Linked DNA regions of Homo sapiens. The protein of the gene in region 1 purifies or fractionates together with the protein of each later gene. This does not show direct contact. Each region holds a gene or a part of one and is shown on either strand. Other genes may lie near its edges.

Region 1 (9,019 bases):
ATTTCTTCAGACATTGCCACGATAGCCCCAGGGTGAACACAGTGCTCTCCCAGTTGAGAACCACTGTTCATTAGGCACCTCTCGTCTCTGATGCTGTGTTGGGAATTTGCCAAGTGCTTCTTACCCAGCTTAGTCACAGGCACACTTACGCCAAGCTAAATTCTTAGAGATGATGTATTACCAGCCCTTCTTTGTTTTCACTCTCTTCTCTAGAGCAGAATCATTTAACATACTGTAGCAATTGATATTTGAACTGGTTTTGGGGGTCTGGGCTCTGGTCTGTATGTGTGTAGGTCGCAGATTACAAGGTATCAAGCCTAGAGAGATTTGATGGAGGGACTTGAACTGAGGTTGAAATTCTAGCAGCTATTTTCTGCATAGAATGAATAGTGTGGTTGTGAATTTGAGGCATGATGTAGCTTGTGATATTCTGTAACCTTCAGAGTGTAAGATATTCTTTATATTTTGTTTGTCTTCGTGCTTTCCTCTTGCTCCTTCTTTCTTGGTGGAATAATTGTTTATTTACATATTCTTGGGTCTTAGTATTAGAGCCATGGGTAGCTACTTTCTGCCTGTTACAGCTTTTTCTCATTCACTGCTTCCTGCTTTGCATCTTCATTTTATTCTTCTTGCCTTTTTGTCCTCATCATTGATATTATTACCCTGATACTTTCTCCTTCACCTTTTGTTCTGGCTCCTCAACAGTCCTCAAACTGTAAATATTTTTTAAATGCAAATGAATCGTCAATTCATATTGCTAGTTTAGACACTTCCACATTCATTAGTATGACTGCCCCACGGACATTTAAACTTGAGTAGTCTTTTCTAAAAATAAACTTTCTGGAATTTTCCCATCACAGACATTGTTCTTTCTCTTTTCCATATCTGTGTGAATTGTTGCCCATTAAGATTTTATAGCCAAGGCCGAGCGCGGTGGCTCACGCCTGTAATCCCAGCACTTTGGGAGGCCGAGGCAGGCGGATCATGAGGTCAGGAGATTGAGACCATCCTGGCTAACACGGTGAAACCCCGTCTCTACTAAAAACACAAAAAAATTAGCCGGGCGTGGTGGCGGGCGCCTGTAGTCCCAGCTACTCGGGAGGCTGAGGCAGGAGAATGGCGCGAACCCAGGAGGCGGAGCGTGCAGTGAGCCGAGATCGCACCACTGCACTCCAGCCTGGGCGACAGAGCAAGACTCCATCTCAAAAAAAAAAAATATTTTATAGCCAAGATAAAAGCTTCAAAATATGGACATAAAGCCAACATAAGAGAAGTAGCCACATGAAATAGCACATCGATTTGATCATTTCAGTTCCTCAGTACAGCCACAATGTAAGATTGATACAATCCTGGATATTTACTGCAAATTGACACACACAGCACCTCTACCACATTCTATGTTCAAGCCAGTTTGAGTTGTGCCTCTATGAAATGCCACCATAAACAGCCCTAATACAGAGAAAATAGTTAATCCTGTATTATGTGGACCAAACTTAAGCTTTTCTTCGGGGTCATTGAGATGTATGGAGCACAAGATAAAAAGACCAAATAGAAAGGAATAGGCCAATTCCACAGAAATGAGACTAGCAGTGGCAGTGATAAAGGTGAACAACTGGTGACCAAATGAAATTGAGGATGTGAAGTGGACTGACTTGGGCAAAGATAGGATGCCAGGGTGAATATATGGTAGTTATTTCCTATTTTGTTTAAATTTGGTGACTTAAGTGGTTGCTAGTGTGATTCAGTAGGATGGAAGGGAGACAAGAGTTGCCGAACTAAGTTCTTTTAAACATCTTGCATTTGAGGTACCTGTGACATATTTGCTGGTGTATATATTAATCAAAATCATAAGGAAAGGGGGCTGAGCAGAAGTACAGATTTGAGAATCATCAACATGTGTACATTAAAATGAAGGAAATGGATGAAGTCAGCAAAGGTAGGGTAGAAGGTTAGAGAAGGTGAAGTTTGAGAAACAGCCATATATAAAGTCCATGAGCCTGTATCTTCAGCAACCAGAACAGGATGTAAGCTACTCAAGGATAGAAATTATGACTTCATCATCTGAGGTTCTCTAGGCCAGGCACAATGCCTGACAAATAATACATGCTATACATACATAACATTACACACACATATGCACACACACAATGTTGTGAAAATCAAGACACTGATGAGTCAATTGAGTTATTTTTTGATGTCTTCACATGGGTTCTTAGGGACAGTCTGCCCTGAGTTTTTTCTCTACTTTGTGGCCTCCACATTAGGATTATCTTTATTTGTATCATATCATGGGGTAGGGGACATGGAAGGAGAAATGTGGATAAGGGCATGACCTGTTACTCCTTGACTTAACCTGTCTTTTTCCTTCCTAGGATGTGAGTGATGTCACAGAAAGGTATGTGTAAGGAGAACATGAGGTAGTTCCCCTGGACTGACAAATGATTCCTTTACCCATGATCAGTGGGAAAGGGAAGAAGAATCAGAGTGGGGAAGATTCAAGAGAGTAGTCTTGAATCGCGCATCACATGGAGTTTTGGCATCCCCAAATAAAGGGGATGAACTGGCCTCTCTGGTAGGAAAATGTGGGTGATGGGAGGTCAGTAGGTGGGGACAGTACTGTTATTTAGAATAAAGAGTTGCAGTATTGCGCCACTGCACTCCAGCCTGGGAGACAAAGGGAGACTCTGCCTCAAACAAACAAAAAAAAATGAATAAAGAGTTGCAGTATCAGTGACTCCCCAAGTACCCTGTTAGTGTACTTTTCCATAAACCTCTGTGCCTGCTTTCATCCCTGATTCTTAAGTTTATAGTTACCTCAAAATACACAGGAATTTTCTTTGCCCATAAATTTTTTTTTTTTTTTTTTTTTGAGACAGAGTTTCACTCTGTCGCCCAGGCTGGAGTGCAGTGGTGTGATCTCGGCTCACTGCACCTTCCTGCCCGTGAATTTTATCAGAGTGACATTCCCATCTGCATTATTTCTCAAGGTCTAAGAATTTGGTCTTGGCACATCTGCCTTAAGTTTTTCTTTCTCCCAGGCCTTGCTCCCTAGTAGATTTTCTTTTGTCTCAATTCCAGTAAAAACGTAAACCCGAGCTCTGGAGGATAATAATTTAGCCCGGGAATCAAACATGTTCTCTATCACATACTCCAGAGTCTCATCCAACAAGGTGACATGTCAAGCTGCTTGCACACTTGGTTCCTCCATGCTCCTCACAGACACACGAAATGGGAACCCTATCGTCCCTTCTGAAATCTGTACTCTCCGTTTGGAGGTGAGGACATCTTTTCTCCAGCTAGTGGCATAACATTCCCAGAGACGGCAAATCCTAAAATGCTGTTTTGAAGGTTTTCTGAGAAATCCCAGGGCCTAAGCCCACAGACTCTTCTGAAGAAACCCCTTCATTTGATACTTTCAAAGCCCCAGCAATAGGCCCCTGGTGTTCTGCCTGTCAACCCAGACATCTTCAACCCCTCTGATTTTAAATATTTTATATCTTTTTTTAGAGGTAGCAAAAGATTTCCAAGCCATTATTTTACTGAACTGCATAACATCTCTAGGACACAGAAAAAGGAAAATTATAGTATTTTCTAAAAACAACAACAGAAAAACAAAATGAGACTTTAAGAAGTTAAATCTTGGACAGGCGCAGTGACTCACACCTGTAATCCCAGCACTTTGGGAGGCTGAGGAGGGCAGATCACGAGGTCAGGAGATCAAAACCATCCTGGCTAACATGATGAAACCCTATCTCTACTAAATATACAAGAAAATTAGCCAGGCGTGGTGGCACGCGCCTGTAGTCCCAGCTACTCAGAAGGCTGAGGCAGGAGAATCGCTTGAACCTGGGAGGTGGAGGTTGCAGTGAGCCGAGATCGTGCCACTGCACTCCAGCCTGGGTGACAGAGCGAGACTCCTTCTCAAAAAAAAAAGTTAAATCTTACACAAGTTTATGTAGATGGTGAGATGATAGTTTCTAGTCTAGCTCTTCTGGCTCCAGTGCCAGGGCTGTTTGCAGAATGATGCTAAGTGTATTCAGAAAGGAGGATTGGAATTCATCAGTAGGCTTGGGAGGTAAGGGAGATGGGTGGTGGAGGAACCCACAGTCAGCAGTGTGGGAACTCAGAAGTCCTGTCCTTTCTAGGAGTGAGTTCTGGACCCTGAGGAAGCCAGAAGCTCTCCCTACAAAGCTGAGAAGTATGTTCCGAGCCCCAGATCTGAAAAGGATGCTGCGAGTGTGTAGAGGTAAGGAGATTCAGGGGAAAGAGTTTGGATGTGAAATTACTGTCGTGGGAAGAAATAAACGGGATAGAGGCTATAGTCGGTATTTGAGCATAGTGGCAAAGAGGGAGGTCCCAGAGGGAGGGACATAGTGTGCTGAAGAAGATGCGGTTTGTATTTAAGGGGAGATGAAATGGCCAGGTGACATCCTCACAGGATTCCTCACCATTCCCCTCAATGTAGTAAGGAGAGAGATACCAGACATGAGACAGTTGGTCCTATTCAACATTATTGACTCTTTTCATCATTACAGAGCTGACAGATGTCCAAAGCTACTGGGGTAAGTAGAAGCCATGGCCTCTTTGGGCTGGCACATTCTGATCTCCTTTCACATGCCCTCCCCAGACATAGCCACACAGATCCTAGGTGTTGATGCCTCCCCCATCCCCGCCATATAGTTCCAGTTCCTCCAACCACTTCCTGTGTTTCCTCTTCTCAGCATAACGAGACCCATGTCCCCGTTCTCATCTGCTGATGTTGTACCTTTTCCTACAGTTGACGTGACCCTGAATCCACACACAGCTAATTTAAATCTTGTCCTGGCTAAAAACCGGAGACAAGTGAGGTTTGTGGGAGCTAAAGTATCTGGACCTTCCTGTCTGGAAAAGCATTATGACTGTAGTGTCCTGGGCTCCCAGCACTTCTCCTCTGGTAAGCATTACTGGGAGGTAGATGTGGCCAAGAAGACTGCCTGGATCCTGGGGGTATGCAGCAATTCACTGGGACCTACATTCTCTTTCAACCATTTTGCTCAAAATCACAGTGCTTACTCCAGGTATCAGCCTCAGAGTGGATACTGGGTGATTGGGTTACAGCATAACCATGAATATAGGGCCTATGAGGATTCTTCCCCTTCCCTGCTTCTCTCCATGACAGTGCCCCCTCGCCGTGTTGGGGTTTTCTTAGATTATGAGGCTGGTACTGTCTCCTTTTATAATGTCACAAACCATGGCTTCCCCATCTACACTTTCTCTAAATATTACTTTCCCACTACTCTTTGTCCATATTTTAATCCTTGCAACTGTGTAATTCCTATGACCCTGCGTCGTCCAAGCTCTTGAATATTCTTCTGTTCCCACCCACTTCTGATAAGTACCCTGAGGCTTATCAGCATGTGATTCTCCCTTCTGATCTTCTGTTTTTCTGTGTTCTCAATTCTTTTGTTGTTTTTTGGTTTTTGAATCTTTTTTGAGATGGAATCTCGCTCTGTCGCCCAGGCTGGAGTGCACTGGCGCAATCTCGGCTCACTGCAACCTCTGCCTCCTGGGTTCAAGCGAACCTCCTGCCTCAGCATCCCAAGTAGCTGGGATTACAGGCACCCACCACCATGCCCAACTAATTTTTGTATTTTTATAGAGATAGGGTTTCACCGTGTTGGCCAGGCTGATCTCGAACTCCTGACCGCAAGTGATCCACCCGCCTCGGTCTCCCAAAGTGCTGGGATTACAGATGTGAGCCGCCGCGCCCAGACAGTTCTTTCGTTTTAAACAGTTACTCAGTACTAGGATGCACCCAGTGGTGAGAGTAAGCATCTTTGACTGATGACAGGTCTTGAGGTGGATAGGGGGCGCTTTCAGTATTTTGCCATTAAGCATAGTATTTGATGCAGGTTTTTTTTGATTGATGCAGGGGATCAAATTTAGGAAGTTCTGATCTGTTAATTTACTACAAGTTTTTGTATAAAATGAAAACTCGTATTCTACCTATGTCTTTTCTGTAAATTATTGAGACAATTGTGTATCATTTTTGTTCTGTTAATGTGGCTTAGTACATTGATTTACTTCAATTTGTTACCACAACTTGCTGAAATACACCATTATTATTTGTTGTATGCAATACTGGATTTATTTTGATAACGTATTGTTTAGATTTTGTTCTCATCTATGTTAATGAAAGAAATTGGCCTGTATTTTTACATTCTTGTAATATCTTTGCCAGGTTCTATAAAATGCAATAATAAGCAAATAAATTACTTTGTTTTTGTATAAGTATGTATAGGATTGAGCTCTAAAACCAAACCATTATAATGATAATTTGGGTAGCTTCAAACTCAAATTGAAGAGAGTCTTCACTACAATCTTCACTACAACCTTTGGCCTTCCTCTCTACATTTAAGAGTAGCAATAGAACAATAAAAAAAAATACGTCTTTCAAATTAATTGCAGTAAAAACAAAAGAGTAGTGGGGAGAGAAAAACAATCCAATACATATTTTTCTCTCAGAATAGAAAGAAAACACAAAGAGAAAATATGAACAATATAAAGCACTTAAAGGAAGAGGATGATTTCTTCCAGCTTTTCCACACTCTCTTTATGCGCAGGAACAAACAGCTGTTGAGTGAGCTGCTATGACTTTGGTAGAGAGGTGCAATATGTTTTTTGAACCAGCTATAAAAGAAATTAAGAGGTACATGTGAGGGTAGAAACAAATATCAAGGATGAGAATGGCACTGGCTGTCCCATATGGTATCCAGGAGCCACCAATGTCTGTTGAGTACTTCATACATGCCTAGTCTGAATTGAGATGTGCTCAATGTATAAAATATATACCAGATTTCAAATACCTACTTCAAAAAATAATGTAAAATATCTCACTAATAACTTTTCCTTTGTGTATTGCAATGATAATATGTTGGCTCTATTGGATTAAATAAAGTATGTTATTCATTTTACCTGTTTCATTTTACTTTTTTAATGTGGATACTAGAAACCTTAAAATTACATATGTGGCTTACATTGTATTTCTATTGGACAACTCTGGAGTAGATCCTATAATGAAATTTCTGTCCCTAAGTGAGCCCTAGTGTAAAAGCCTATGGACTCAGGATACAGAGGAGGTTTCAAGGCACATATGTTTATCTCTACAGAACCTGCACCTTCCCAGCTGCCCTGAGGCATTTTTATGGAAGGTAATGACAGAGAAAAGAAGATCTCAACATATCTAGAAGTGTAGAAATTTGGAAGATCATAGAAAGGGCTCATGACCAGAGAATGATTCTGCAGACTCTGGCCCCTGCCGTTAGTCCTCAGTCTGTTGGGCACTTGAAGCTCCTTCATGGTTTGATGAAACACTGATTTGTTATCAAGGCTCAGCTTGGGTGTCTATGGTGAGATAAAGTAGTGCAGATTATAGTAAAAGCTCACTACTGGTTTGTTCTAAGGCACCGTTTTATAATATTTGGGAGATCATATCTGTGGAAGCCCAGAGGCTGGATGCAAACTCCTTATCCTGGTCTGCGTTTCAATTGGAAGAGATATAAAAGGAGATAGGGCCAGCTGACTGGGACCTATGGGGCTGGTGGAAGTTCAGGAAAGAGAAAGATCTGCTGGAGTAGTTATCCCCTTCCCACTTATTTTCCCATATAATAAGTAAGTTCTAGGCAAAAGAGTTAGCCCAGCTCTCTTCTGTAAACTCATTTTACAAGTAAATTTACTTTCCAAGTGAATTTACTTTATAAGTAATTTTTCTTTTTTGTCACCAGAGTTCTAGGGATGTGGTATAGTTATCCTAATATTTCCCAAAATGTGAGTGCTTGCTAGAGCCGATATTTAAGTTTGATGCTAACTTAAAAAGAAGATTTTGGAAGGGAGAGGGACTTTCTTAACAGCTTTATTGTGATATTTACTTCTTTATAAGTAAATTCACTTGGAGAACCCAAAGTATTGTCCAGTGAATGACTTTAGATAATAGTGAAAGCCAAACTAAGTACTTGCTGGAATTCTATAGGTAAGACCTGGGGAAGGTTGCTCAATCTGAGACTTGGGGACAATTATTAGGGTAAGTTCACAGCTCTGACCTTTTCTTGAGGGGTTATGGGGGCTTGACAGAGGCCTTCTGTTCTTGACATGTGATAGAGTAGGCTCAACTACTATGAAAAAGAACTCTAAAAATACATAATGGATCAAATACTAAAGAAATGTACTTCTTGTTAATGTAAAACAATCGGTCATGAGTGTATGTAACTGGTGGTGAGTGGCACTGTTCCATGTGGGATTCATGCACCAAGCTTGCTTTCATCTTGTGGCACTTGCTGTACCCCAGAATGGTAACAGCATGAAGCTGGCAGAAAGGTGAAGAAAACTTAGGGGAGAAAACGTGCTTTTTAAATCCTTAGTTCATAGATGGGATTCGTAATATCTGCTCATTTTCTATTAATGAGAATAGCCATAGGGCTAAACCTAACTGTAAAGATTTTTTAAATGTCTAGCTGTATGCAATCATGTACAATCAAATTTCAAGGAAAAGAAAACTCAGATTTTGGTGGAAACTGCCTGGAACCCTAAGTAATCCTTTTTCCCATTATAGAGGACTCAGGATCTCAGCTTTTTTCTGGAACTATGTTAATTCCATTCTATAGCCTAAAGTTTGTAAAAGAGAACTGTATTGTCACTAAAGTTCTAGACATGTGGTATAGTTATCCTAATATTTCCCAACAAGCGAGTGCTTGTTAGAGCTGGCATGTAAGTTTGATTCTAACTTAAAAATAATCTTTTTAGGGGAAGAGGACTGTCTTAACATTATTATTGTAATATAACTGACATATAATACATTTCATAAAGTATATAACTTGATACATTTTGACTTGTGAAACTCATCACCATCAAGGCAATAAATCAGATGGGGTTCTTTTTTGTATATATAGCACTTAGAGCTATACATTTCCTTCTGTGGCTTTAAATGCATCTCACAAATTTTGATATATTCTCCATTCTATTCAAGATTCTATTTTCCCTTTTG
Region 2 (8,187 bases), on another chromosome or scaffold:
CTCCTTCTACTTATTAAATAAAAAGTTGACTGTAAAACAGCCTTAGGCAGGTCCTTCCGGAGATATTCCAGAAGGAGGTATTGTTATCATAGGAGATGACAGCTCCATGCATGTTATTAACCCTGAAGACCTTCCAGTGGGCCAAGATGTGGAGATGAAATACAGTGGTATTGATGATCCTGAACCTGTGTAGGCCGAGGCTAATGTGTATATTTTAGTTTTTATCAAAAAAGCTCTAAAAGTAAAAAATAAAATAAAATAAATTTAATAGAAAAAAGCTTGTAGAATAAAGGATATAAATGAAACTATTTTTGGCTGGGGGTGATGATCACACCTGTAATCCCAGTACTTTGGGAGGCTGAGGTGGGCAGATCACTTGAGATCAGGAGTTCGAGACCAGCCTGGCCAACATGAGATGGATCTGGAGAGGAGAATGGTCAGCCCTGGAAATTTCTGATCGACATTTAAAGGGTGTACTCCTTTTTTTTCTCTACTAAATAAAGACAAAAATAAGCCAGGCATGGTGGCACGCTCCTGTAGTCCCAGCTACTTGGGAGTTTGAGGCATGAGAATCACTTGAACCTAGGAGGCGGAGGTTGCAGTGAGCTGAGATCGCACTACTGCACTCCAGCCTGGGTGACAGAGTGAGACTTCATCTCAAAAAAAAAAAAAAAAAAAAGTCATGGGAGGCTGAGGCAGGAGAATCGTTTGAACGTGGGAGACAGAGGTTGCAATGAGCCGAGATCACGCTACTGCACTCCAGCCTGGTGACAGAGCAAGGCTCCGTCTCAAAAAAAAAAAAAAAAAAAAGTCGAAAAAAGATGTTTTTCTATTACTGTCACTACAAAAAAAGTAAAAATGGCTTTAAAAATTAAAAAGTTTATAAGGTAAAAAACATTACAGTAAGCTAAGGTTAATTTATTATTGAAGAAAGAATAATATATATATATACATATTTTTTGAGACGGAGTCTCGCTCTGTCACACAGGCTGGAGGGCAGTGGCGTGATCTTGGCTCACTGCAACCTCTGCCTCCCAGGTTCAAGTGACTCTTCTGCCTCAGCCTCCCAAGTAGCTGGGATTACAGGTGCCTGACACCACGTCCAACTAATTTTTGTATTTTTAGTAGAGACGGGGTTTCACCGTGTTGGCCAGGCTGGTCTGGAACTCCTGACCTCAGGTGATCCGCCCACCTCAGCCTCACAAAGTGCTGGGATTTCAGGTGTGAGCCACTGTGCCTGGCCAAGAATAATATTTTTATAAATGTAGTACAGCCGATGTGTACAGTGTTTATAGTCTACAGTAGTACACAGTAACATTTTAGGTCTTCACATTTTCTCACTACTCACTCACTAACCCACCCAGAGCAACTTCTAGTCTTGCAAGCTCCATTCATGTAAGTGCCCTACACAGGTGTACCATTTTTTATCTTTGATATTATATTTTCACTGTAACTTTTCTATGTTTCAATATGTTTAGCTATACAAATACCTAACCATTCTGTTACAGTTCCCTACAGTATTAATTATAGTTAAATGCTATACTGTCTGTAGCCTGGAAGCAATAGGCCACGCCATACAGCCGGGGCATGTAGTAGGCTACAGCGTCTAGGTTTGTGCAAGTACACTCTCTGATGTTCCCACAGTGACAAAGTCACCTAATGACACACATTTCTCGGAACGTATCCCTGTCATTAAGCAATGTGTAACTGCACTTACATTTCCACCACCACAGGTTCTACTCTTTCTGCTTCATGAAGCAGAAACATTCCAGTATTGTTGGAATGTGTGTATGTGTAGAAGCTCCTGGAATTATTACTGTGAGGGAAACAGTTCTTGCTGGATGTTTTTTCCAACTATACCAGCTAGGCTCACATCTGGCATTCCACATGGGCATTCTCACCTATTATCCCTAAGAAAGATTTTGCCTGGACTTCAGCTGTCCATTTGATTCTTCTGAGCAGGAGCCTCTGCCAGACCCCAGCTTTTCCCTACCTCCCCTGAAGTCAGAAAAGGAATGGATTACAGGATTACTCACCTGTCGTGCGGCCAGAGGCATAGAGGGAGAGCACAGCTTGAATGGCGACGTACATGGCAGGGACATTGAAGGTTTCAAACATGATCTTAAAGGACAATGAAGAATAAAAGATTATTTGGCAAAAATCACAGCACTTCTTGGCCTGTAGAATGGTTTGTAATCTCATTAAGGGCAGGAACTATGCCAGTTTGATAGTTCATTATTCCACACCCACTCCCCCAGGGCCTGGCATGGACCACAGACATAGCAGGTCCTCAGAGAGTTCTGTTGCACTGATGTTTGAAGGGGAGAAAGTATCTGGCCAAGCATCCATGTTGCATTCTTATGCCAGTGTTCAAGTCTTCCTGGCTTCTTACCTGGGTCATCTTTTCCCTGTTGGCCTTGGGATTTAGGGGAGCCTCTGTGAGCAGGGTGGGGTGCTCTTCAGGTGCTACACGCAGCTCATTGTAGAAGGAGTGGTGCCAGATCTAGTGGAGACAAAAGCCATATGAGCCTGGCAGACTCCCAATGGCTGGAAAATTCTCATTGACATTCCCATGCTGGGAGAGTGTGGCACCATGTTACACAGGATGGGATGGATCTGGAGAGGAGAATGGTCAGCCCTGGAAATTTCTGATTGACATTTAAAGGGTATACTCCTTCTCAACAGGGCCCCAGGTAGGACTCAGACCTGGAACCAGTATTTTCTATGTGTTCATTATTTCCATTTGACCTTCCCTCCTCTTCACTCTCCTACAGTCTCTCCCCTGCCTTTGTGCACTGAGTGATGCAAGGCACATTGTATCACTCAAGTGTTCATTGCTTTCTGGCTTCTGGCTATATTTGGCTGATAGAAGATTCCTGCAAGAGGCTGGAAAGTAGGAGGGCAAAAGAAGTCAGGGTCTATCTCCTGACAATGGCGTGGCCCTCCATGAGCACAGTTCCTGTTGGGCAGCCCCTCTTTCAGAGCTCAAGCTCTCACTAAGCTCCAATGACACTGCCCTCGTCACCTGACCCCTTCATGTTTAGGGGTGTGAGAGCTCCCTCTGTTGCTGGCTCTTGGGTGCCTCGACATCCCTTTGTAGTTGCCTTAACCCTATGCACATTTCTGTAGGACATTCATTTAACCAGTTGTAAAACCCCAGCTGAGTATACACTGTCAAACAATTTCAAAACCGCAGCTGAGTGTACACTATCTCCTGCTGAGAATCTGACAGAGGCACTTGGGCTCAATTTTCACTGGCTATTATTGGCCAGGCTGGTGCTTTAAAGCAGGGTTTCTCAATCGCAGCTCTATGACATTTTAGGTTGGATAATTCTTTGTTGTGGAGGGCCGACCAGTATCCCTGGTCTCCACCCACTGGATGCTAGCAGCAGTTTTCCAGTTGTGACAATAAAAAATGTCTGCAGACATTGCCAAATGTCCTTTGGGAAGCAAAATCATCCTGGTTAAGAACCACCGCTTAGCCTGGGCAACACACTGTGGGCCTGTCTCTACAAAAAGATAAAAAATTAGCCAGGCATGGTAGCGCCTGCCTGTAATCTCAGCTACTCAGGAGGCTGGGGCAGGAGGATCGCTTGAGCCCAGGAGGTCAAGGCTGCAGTGAGCTGTGATCATGGCACTGCACTCCAGCCTGGGCAACAGAGCAAAACCCTGTCTCAAAAATAAAAAAGAACCACTGTTTTAGAGGAAGTTAATTTCTTCCTGTGTCCAGTTCCTTCTTCAGTGATCAAGTACGACCAAAAAGGAGTCTTTCAGAGGGATTGGGCAAAGTGTAGCAGGGACATGGGGCTTTGGTTTCCTCAGAGGTGAGGCACAGGGTCATTTGATGCCATTGGACCCATGTATTTATGGACCGCCAGGTTTGTGCTAAGACGGTGGTAAGTGTGATGAGGGCAGATATGAATCAGACATGGCACCCTATTCTCAGTTGCAAAGTCCAGAGGGGAGAGAGACGTTTAAAAAAGACCAAAACAAACAAAAAGAAAAACACAAGCCACATTTTAAGTGAAAGAAGAGGTAGGAGTAATTCATTATCTGAGGGATTTAAATGGGCCTTGAGGGCAAAAGAAGGTCTCCAGAGGCTGCTGCAAAAGGCATCCGAGGCAGAGGGAATGGCACAGGCAGAGGCCCTGGACTGTGAGCATTGCACAGGAGCCTGAAGGACAGCAACTGGTCTTAAGGAGGGGACCCCATGCTACTTAAAATGTGCTTCCTCAAGGCCCTGTCTCAGAGTCACCTGGGATCATCTGACCCACTGAACCAGAATCCTTGGGTGTTGGGCTCAAGCATCTGCACTTGATTTTGGTTTCTTTTTTGGAGTTTTTATACCTTAAAAGTTAAAGATGTTGATAATTTTTAAAGTTAGAAAAATATTTTTAAGGTCGAGTGTGGTGACTTATGCCTGTAATCCCAGCACTTTGGGGAGCTGAGACAGGCAGATTGCTTGAGCCCAGGGGTTGGAGACCAGCCTGGGTAACAAAGTGAGACCCTGTCTCTACAAAAAATTAAAAAATCAACTGGATGTGGTGTGCACCTCTGTTCCCAGCTACACCGGAGACAGAGGCAAGAGGATTCCTTGAGCCCAGGAGGCCAAGACCACAGTGAGTTATGACTGCACCACTGCACTCCGGCCTGGGCGACAGAGGAAGATCCTAGCTCAAAATTTTTATGTATTTATTTATTTATTTATTTTTTATTTTTTATTTTGAGATGGAGTCTTGCTCTGTCGCCCAGGCTGGAGTACAGTGGCGCCATCTCGGCTCACTGCAAGCTCCGCCTCCCGGGTTCACGGCATTCTCCTGCGTCAGCCTCCCGAGTAGCTGGGACTACGGGTGCCCACCACCACACCTGGCTAATTTTTTGTATTTTTAGTAGAGATGTGGTTTCACCGTGTTAGCCAGGATGGTCTCAATCTCCTGACCTCGTGATCCACCCGCCTCCGCCTCCCAAAGTGCTGGGATTACAGGCGTGAGCCACCGCGCCCGGCCAAAATTTTTTTTAATGGAATAAAAATCTCCCCTATGTCCATCACCTAACAACAAACAGTTAACATTTTGGCTTTTTTCTTTTTCCTAACCTTTGTCTTTATGTATTTTTAAATTTATTACTATCATTATTTATTTCATATTCTTTTATTTATTATATTATTATACTATGTTCAAATTTGTTTTTATAACAAATTATTTTACTTTTCATAATAAATATTTATTTTTGATAAACTTAAACTTTTGAAAATGCTTATATAACATTTTATCATATACTATCATATATTTAATCACATTACTATTCATGGTGTCTTTGATTTTTGGTTATAAATAATCCTATGATAGTTATCTTTGTGCATATTGCAATTTATTTTTTGTATTCAGGATGTTTTCCAAAGAAGAAGATTCTAAAAGTGGAATGACTGGGCTAAAGAACATAGCAATTGGAAGACTTTCTGATTTCTGTTATTAACAAATAGGCTAAACCAATCTTTACTTCAGAATAAAAAAGTGGCTGTTTTACCCCATTCTTAACTGAATTCAGTGCTCTCACTCTTAAAATATGAAATAATTTGATAGGTAAAAATCATACCTAGTTATTTTACTTCAATTTTTTTGTTTCAAATGAGTTTAAATTTTTTCACATTTGCAACTTTTCATAATTTCTGTTCAGCTAATTAACTGTTTTTTATTTGTCTGGGGGACACTTCATATTTTTAATTGTCAATTTGCATTAACTGTTCATATTAATCCCTCATTGCCCTTTTGTTTTGCAATTTGTTATTTGGCTTTTAAATTTGGTTATTTTTGAGATATTAAAAGTTACGATTTTTTAAGAAGTCAAATTTGTCATTCTTTTTCTCTATGACCACTCTTACCAGAAATTTGATTAAATGCTCACATTAACTGTATTATATTTTTGGTAATTTAAATGTTTACATTTAACTTTTATATTTAATTGACATGTGTTTGGTGAAATGGTATGAGCTTAGGGCTATAAACCAAGATTCTCTAGCTCCAAAAATAACTAATCAGTTGTCCCAGAAATAATTTATTGACTAGTCCTTTCCTCCTTTCTGATGCTGGAAGTTTCATTTATTATATATTTCCTCTTTACCTTTTTGCTGGTATCAAATTGTTTTAACTTTATAATTTATATTGTATTTTATTACATTATGTCTTCCTTCATAATTAAAAAAATTCATTTTGTTCTCATAATTGTTGCTTATTTATTTCTGCAAACATACTTTAGAATTATGTCACATAATTTTTATTGGAATGCAATGAGCCTATAAATTAATTTGAGGACATTTGACACTTTTACCCAATTTGGTTTTTCTTTTAAGGCACACAAGATTATATATATATATATATATATATATATATATATATATACACACACACACACACACACACACACACACACACACACAATGATTTATAGATATATAATGAAATGATTATATAATGAAATGATTTTATATTTATACATATATACATTTTTAAAAAAAAATATATATAGGGTCTCACTCTGTTGCCCAGGCTGGAGTGCAGTGATGCGATCTTGGCTCACTGAAACCTCCACCTCCCAAGTTTAAGTGATTCTCCTGCCTCAGCCTCTGGAGTAGCTGGGACGACAGGTGCTAACCACCACATCCAGCTAATTATTGTTTAGTAGAGACAGGATTTCACCATGTTGGTTGGCCAGGCTGGACTCAAGTGATCCACCTGCCTCAGCCTCCCAAAGTGCTGGGATTACAGGTATGAGCCACTGTGCCCGGCCTTAAGGCACATAATTTATTTTTAAGGGTTTCTTTAAAGAGTTCACATGTTGTCACTACTGTGAATAAAATAGTTTGTCTATTATTTGTCTATTATGTTTTCTTCCTTCCTTCCTTTCTTTTTTTTTTTTTTTTTTTTTTTTGAGACATGGTCTCACTCTATCACCCAGGCTGGAGTGCAGTGGCGTGAACACAGCTCACTGCAGCCTCCACCACCTGGGCTCAAGTGATTCTCATGCCTCAGCCTCCTGAATAGCTGAGACCGCAGTCATGTGTTACCATGCCCAGTGAATTTTTACATTTTTATTTCATAGAGATAGGGTATCACCATGTTGCCCAGGCTGGCCTCAAGCTATCCTCCTGCCTTGGCTTCCCAAAGTGTTGGGATTACAGGCATGAGCCACTGGCCTCTATTATGTGGTTTTTTTTTTGTTTTTTTTTTTTTTTTTTTTGAGACGGAGTCTCACTCTGTCACCCACAGTGGAGTGCAGTGGCACAATCTCGGCTCACTGCAACCTCTGCCTCCCGGGTTCAAGCGATTCTCCTGCCGCAGCCTCCCGAGTAGCTGGGATTACAGGCACCCGCCACCATGTCCAGCTAATTTTTGTATTTTTAGTAGAGACGGGGTTTCATCATGTTGGCCAGGTTGGTCTCAAGCTCCTGATTTTGTGATCCACCCGCCTCGGTCTCCCAAAGTGCTGGGATTACAGGCATAAGCCACCACGCCCGGCCTATTATGTTTTTAAATTAGATACTGTTACATATATATGAATCATATGTGTCACTTATTGAGCACATAAGTATGTTCCATGCCTTGGGATTATACTAAGCATTTAGCTAATTCAATCTTCAAAGCAACCTAATGCACAAAGTGTTTTTTATCTTCACTTTACAAATGGGAAAACTAAGACTTATAGGGTGGGATTTGCACCTGGATTTCCTGCCATTGCCTCTAATGTCTGTGCTCTTACCCACTCCACTGTATAACGTGAAATCCATTGCATTTTATGTGCAGTACTTATCTCACATTGAGTGACTCAGTCTAGGATTTAGAGAAAAGTATAAGTGAATTACAGACTTCAAGTCAACATTCCTCATTTCCAGTTGCAGTCTGCTCAATAAGCCCCCTATCACATTTCCAAAGACAGGCGTTGCAGAAACAAGAACACTCAGCCAACTGTCACCAGAGTTAATCACAAGAATATTAGAAAGGCTCTATTAACATTTTGCACACATAATTTTGTTTACCATGAGCTCCACCATTTAAAAATCCCGCTCCCCCCACAATATTTTCTTAAACAAAAATGCTTCTAGAAACCCTGAGAGAGTTCTACTTAGAAACTTTCACTGGAGACTCATCATCATAGTCTAGCATCAGTCCACCTATGTGAAGTCTTGACAGG

What was found. Proteins that work in one complex are often made in the same cells at the same time.
Region 2: the proteins of TRIM6 (region 1) and ACTG2 purify together in Homo sapiens (affinity purification with mass spectrometry, with the first as the bait; 2 studies listed by BioGRID). This does not show direct contact.

Annotation. Positions count from the first base shown.
Region 1 is NC_000011.10:5,606,000-5,615,018, forward strand, and holds the end of TRIM6 (tripartite motif-containing protein 6), read left to right. Parts: intron 1-2,372; coding exon 2,373-2,395; intron 2,396-4,145; coding exon 4,146-4,246; intron 4,247-4,535; coding exon 4,536-4,562; intron 4,563-4,777; coding exon 4,778-5,343; 3' UTR 5,344-6,953; downstream 6,954-9,019. Other genes in the region: TRIM6-TRIM34 (tripartite motif-containing 6 and tripartite motif-containing 34), read left to right, coding at 2,373-2,395, 4,146-4,246, 4,536-4,562.
Region 2 is NC_000002.12:73,902,989-73,911,175, reverse strand, and holds part of ACTG2 (actin, gamma-enteric smooth muscle isoform 1 precursor), read right to left. Parts: intron 2,504-8,187; coding exon 2,393-2,503; intron 2,122-2,392; coding exon 2,037-2,121; intron 1-2,036. UniProt on the Homo sapiens protein: Actins are highly conserved proteins that are involved in various types of cell motility and are ubiquitously expressed in all eukaryotic cells.